Regions from separate parts of the Homo sapiens genome. Here region 1 is linked to region 2. The links come from fine-mapping of genetic effects on gene expression. A gene starts in region 2. The other region holds a variant in brackets. All regions are shown on one strand. Distances are from middle to middle. Region 1 has its middle 150 kb from the start of LEF1. Region 2 holds the start of ETNPPL (ethanolamine-phosphate phospho-lyase).

The links. PIP is the estimated chance that this variant, and not a neighbour inherited with it, causes the effect.
Region 1: its variant is the best candidate, but not a certain one, in a credible set for the expression of ETNPPL in stomach (GTEx, PIP 0.62).

The regions. Positions count from the first base shown.
Region 1 is chr4:108,312,652-108,315,563 of GRCh38, forward strand. No RefSeq gene overlaps it. Among named protein-coding and RNA genes, the nearest start is that of LEF1, 150 kb to the left of the region's middle. The variant A/C (reference allele first, on the strand shown) is at 1,295.
Region 2 is chr4:108,761,764-108,764,675 of GRCh38, forward strand. It overlaps ETNPPL (ethanolamine-phosphate phospho-lyase), which reads right to left and starts at 1,290. Exons shown (of 13, transcript NM_031279.4): 1 at 1,080-1,290. The coding sequence starts at 1,135.

The sequences.
Region 1 (2,912 bases), 450 kb before region 2:
TTTAATACTGTCAAGTGATTCATAATTATAAAGGGTGAATGGACTATGTTTGCTCTGTAGTGGTTATGCTGAGACTCATTAAGTACTTTCTGCATCCAGGAGTTCTGTTTTATGTAAACAAGACCTCTGAGGAATATATAGATGGGTAATAAAGATGAAAGGAAATGAAGTATATTAACATGAGGACAAATTAATAACGGCCTTTCCATCTTCTAACAGGAAAATCAGTTGCTGTGGAATAATTGCACTTTTCAATGCAAAGGGGAGCAAAAATCCAGACAAAGCAATAGACAGAAGACAGACAAAATCAGACAGGGCTCTGGGGTCAAACTACTTTATGGAGATAGTCTGCACTTTGGAAAACTTACCTGCTTTCCTGGCCAGGCTTCTGATGGGACTTGCAGAGAGCTTTTACTTGGCCACAAATGAAATCATCTTTAATGTTTTGTAATGGACAGTGGGGCATGAAGAGGTTCTCTTCTTCATAAAGGGACAGGGAAAGGAGGGTAGGAGAATACAAGTACTGAAATGGCAGAAAAGGTAAGATTAACCAAATCACCATCTTATTTCTCTTCACATAAAAGAGTCGGAGCCTGTGTTTTGAGATTTGCTTGAAATAAATAACAGCATTGATAAGACAAGGCTGAGCTAACATGGATAGATCTGTTTTCCTATCAGCAATGCACTGTCTGAATTCCTAGACAAGTATGTCGGCTAAACTGAGTTTCCAACTGAGCAGACCCTATATAGGTCACTGTAATATACAAACTATAACACAGCAAAGATGCCCATTGGGTCACCCAGATCTTTACTTGGCTCAAGGCTGCTAGTACAGAGTTAGCAAGTAGATAGCTCCAAAGGGCCTACCCCATGTACTGAATTTCAGAAGGTATTTCCACCCCAAAGATGGCCTGCTTTCTCAACCTGCAGGCATTTCTCTACCCCTGGCATAGAGCTGACTTGCTGCCTGCTGGGCTTCCAAAACTCCAGATTTACACCTCTGGTGCTTTGCTCAGACCAGGGCTGGAACTAGGATGAGAGGCAAGCCAGACGTGGGGTGGGAGGGGTAAATTTAAGGAGGCACTACATCTCAGGTCCCGAACCGACACTTGTACTTCCTTGAAAGTAAGTGCTTCCTTAAATTTTGCACCCAGGAGCTTCCCTTGCCTCACCCTACTTTGGGCCTTGGACTCCAGAGTCTCTGGTGAGAGATCTGTGGATTGTGTTAGTGCAGGAAGCCTCACAGCCAGATCACTCTCACTCTGCTTGATAGCTCTTCTGTTTACCTCAACTA[A/C]CTTCTCTCTCTATATTACTCAGTTTAAAGAATTTGAAGACTGGAAACCTTGCATGGCATCTTAAAATGCAGAGCAAGGGGCCCATGTTGCTTTCTTGTTGAGCTCAGAGCAGGCCTGACTATGCAAAGGCTGAGATCAGTCCTGGAGCCACGCCGACTAACCCAAGACCAAGACATCCCAGGGACTCAGGGATGCTCCTCCCAGGACTGGCTTAGAAGGGGCCTGCTTGGTTATAATGCTCTGCTGTTACAGCCTTGACATTTTAAATAATTTTTAAACAAAGGGCCCTGTGTTTTTATTTTGCTTTGAATCCTGAAAATTATGTATTATAGTTGATCTTGGCTCTACTTACAACAAATTAAAAATATCTAGTGTGTCAAATGCTCCCTGCCCCTTTAACACCCTTCTTGATTGTTATTGGAGTACACACAAGCCCTTACGGTGGTCCGTAAAACCCTGCTTTGTTGGGCCTCAATTCACTCTCCAGCCCTGCATTGTCCCTTCCTTCTTGTTACCTGCTTTCTGGCCTTCTTGCAGTCCTCAAGTGCACCACATTCCCTCTCACCTCAGGGCCTTTGTACAGGCTGTTTCCTCTGCCTGGAATCCTCTTCTCCAGCCCCACTCCCCAAATCTGGCTGCTACTGCTTGTCCTTCAGTTCTGAGCTCAGACATTAATTTCTCAGGAAAGCGCTGACCCACCAGGCTAGACTGAACCCCACGTCGTATATTCTCACGGTGCTTCTTCAGCGCCTGCCACAATGTATAATTAAATCTTTGTCTGATCATCTGATTAGTGTCTCTATTACCACGTGATTCCACATGAGACAGGGACTGTGTGTCTTTTGTTCACTTTCGTAGGTTCAAGGCCTAGCATAGTGCCAGGCACTTATTACAGCAAGCACTCAGTAAATAGTTGTGAAGGGAAGGGTAAGGGAGAAGCCCAGGGTATTCCTGTCTGGGGATGTTGTGTCGGGGGAGGCAGGGTGGGGAGATGTTGGAGGTGGGAGGTGGGCTGAGGGGAGGTAACCTCTGGAAGGATCTGAAGCAAAGCTGAATGCCCTTTGGCTGTTGACTTCCAGGCTCAGATACCCAATGCTCTCAATCTGAAGTCATCCTCAGAAGCCAGCTCAGCTCCACACTAGCCTCTGGTGAGGGGAGATGATGAATGAGCAAAGTTTAATCACATTGAATTCAATTTGCTGATGGTCAACCTAGGTATCTCAATAATTAGGGGAAAATATACTGTGTGTTAGTAATTTCTAACGAGCATGCAAGGTTTCAGTTTGCAGCGTGGTCTGCTAAGCATTTTAATAGTTTGAGTTTTCTTCTTATATTTGCCTTCCTTATTTAGCGGTATACTTCCCTTTGGGGATTTTATTCCCTTTGATAGACTTGTGAAAGTATAATTTTTTTCTAACTCTGTGGTGTATTTTGTCTCTTTGCTTCCTTTATCTTTTCTTTTGCAAGCCACCGAAAGTCATGTGTTAGTCTTTGATTTCCTTCTATGGTCCCACATACCTTTCTTGTAGATTTTTTCCTTGTGATCTTTGAAATATCCTCCACAAGTTCAAAGTGACCGCTACTTGTTGTAGGGAAAAAGAAAGTCAAAACTCCTTC
Region 2 (2,912 bases):
ATCCCACTTAGCGGCTGAGAGAGATGGAACTAGTCTTCCAAACCACCCAGAAACCCCTCCAGTTGGGGTGAGGAGCTTCAGTCTGAGAAACTGTCCAGCATTCCTCCGAAGAGGATGCGGATTGTTTTCTTCCTTGTAACCCCAAGTGCTCTCTCATGCCCACTGGCCCGGCTGCAGTCGTTCATTTCAAGTGAATATTGCAGACGGTTGACTTTACAGTATTCGGGGTCATTAATCATCATTTATATTTACACGTATCTTTTTAAAAACCACGCACAAAACACTAACATATTAATCTCATCTTCTTGCTCCTGTGAAGTAGAATGTTATTCCTACTTTCATAGAAGAGACAATTAATTTGACAGAGGTCCACACAGGGAATATGACATCCAACGAGAGCTAGAGCCCCTGTCGGTCTTATATACTCACCTTTATATTACTAAGTCGTTTGTGACGGGGGCAAGACAAGCAGGCTGGGAAGAACACAGCTTGGGAGAGCAAGTTGGGTAAGAGGGATCTAAATAAAGTCTCTGCTTTTCTAACAGAAGGTGGTTTCAAGTTTTTCTATTGGCTAGATAAACCCTTCATCACTTAACCAAGCATGCAAGAAGAAAAAGCTCACTTTAAGTAAAAATTGTCAGAATTGGTTTGTTTGCGGAGCCATCATGAAAAAATATTTCTCAGTTCACAGTTTCCAAAAACTTTCGAGTTGTGTGGGGGTGGCGGAGCGCTATCCTTCTTCCACCCATCTCCCATCCCTGGAATGGTGTCTGCTAGGGCTATTGGCCGTCATCCACCAACCCCTCTAGCCGGCCGGCAGCCCCCGCTAGTCCGCCGGCTGCAGAGCGAGCCGGGGACTTTCGAGCGGGCAGGAAGCCCAGCGTTCCGGGTTCCAGGAGCGTTTCTGGGAGTCCGCGCGGCCCCTGCAGGTGGAGGCGCGCGGGGCGCGTGCACAGGCGCGGCGGGCACGGAGTGCGGCTGCAGCGCATCGTTTGTTCCCTAGCCGGCTTTCTCTCTCCACCTTCTGCACTCGTTATTGCCCCCTCTCTGCACTTACTTCCGGGCCAGGGTGCCCTTACCCGATGTGCTTCTTCCTCAGCCCCAGAGTGTCCCGCTTACTGTACAGCTCGCACATGGTGGCGGGGTGCAGGGCGCTGCGAAGGTGCAAGGTGCAAGGTCTGCGCGCCTCCTACGCGAGCCTGGGACTGCCTTGGCGGCCCCGGCCGGCCTTCCTCCCGTTATCCCTCCTGGCGTTCTCTTGCCCGGGGCGTCGGAGGTCACCGGTGGCGTCAACTAGCTAGGATCATCTCCCTTTTAAGTCTGGCTCTGGCGTTGCCCTTTGCCAAGCCCCTCCTCCTCCCCCGCCGGGGCCGCGGGCAGGTCGCCGGGCTAGCAGCTCATTCGCCACCACCCTGTCCTGCCAGGCCGGCTCGGCCCTACCCGCCCCTATCATTCCTCTGAATTCGCCTTTCATTCTCCTAACTTTGCCTCGTCTTTGCTTTTCCTCCTCCTCTGCCTGCGAATTCCCTCCTTCCCACGTTCTTTCTGGTTTCTTTTTAGTGTAGTCCTTTATTTTCTGGTAAAAATTCAGGAGTTAGGCGCTTCCCGGATCAAGACTCACTGCGCAGTCTGATAAGGTAACCTACCATTTACTCAGCACAAGGACGCGTCCTAACGAGAAATAACCCGGACTCAGCCTGTTATCTCCATTGGCAGTGATGATATATGCAGTGTTTCAAACATCTCCTTTAACAATGATTACACTTCTAATTCCTCTAACTATACAACTTACAAAACACATTCACATGACTTATCTTGTTCAGTCTTCAAAACAACCCTGAGAGATGACCACGAGTGTTACCCCATTTAATGAACGGGGAAAGTGAGGTTATTCCCTGTTCTAATGATTATATATCCACTTGATGCTGAAAACGGGACTCATTCTTAGATTTCTTGACTTCCTTCAAGATGGTCTTCTCACACAGATCATATCTGAAGCTAAATATGTGCACAGGTAGAAACTTTTTTTTTTTTTTTTTTTTTTTTTTTTTTTTTGAGGATGGAGTCTGGCTCTGTCACCCAGGCTGGAGTGCAGTGGCGCAATCTCGGCTCACTGCAAGCTCCGCCTCCCGGGTTCACGCCATTCTCCTGCCTCAGCCTCCCGAGTAGCTGGGACTACAGGCGCCCGTCACTACGCCCGGCTAATTTTTGTATTTTTAGTAGAGATGGGGTTTCACCATGTTAGCCAGGATAGTCTCGATCTCCTGACCTCGTGATCCCCCCGCCTCGGCCTCCCAATAGAATCTTAATTAACTGAATCATTAAATCATACATTATTTTAACTAGAAGTCATCTGGTTTAACTTCTCTGCTCTGTAGATAAGAACAGTGAGGCACAGGAAAGGTGAAGGTTTATTCAAGTTCACACAAACACTTAGTCATTGGGTTAAGGATAGGTCATTTTATTCTCTCTGTGTTTTGAAAGGGCAGCAGGGAAAGCCTAATTTGCATGTATCAACACATTTGATAAGTATTTGCAACTGATCTTTCTCTTGAAAAAAGTTATTAATATATATTCATGCACTGCAGGAGGAGTAGAATTGGATTGCCTAAGGTAGAAAGAGAAATGGAGTCCTATGAGGAACAGTGTGTTAATTCCAGATTTTAGGCCAGGCGCCGTGACTCACGCCTGTAATCCCAACATTTTGGGAGTCCAAACTGGGCGAATCACCTGAGGTCTGGAGTTCCAGACCAGCCTGGCCAACATAGCAAAACCCCATCTCTACTAAAAAAATACAAAAATTAGCTGGGCGTGGTGGTGGGCACCTGTAATCCCAGCTACCCAGGAGGCTGAGGCAGGGAGAATTGCTTGAACCTGGGAGGCAGAGGTTGCAGTGGGTTGAGATCATGCCA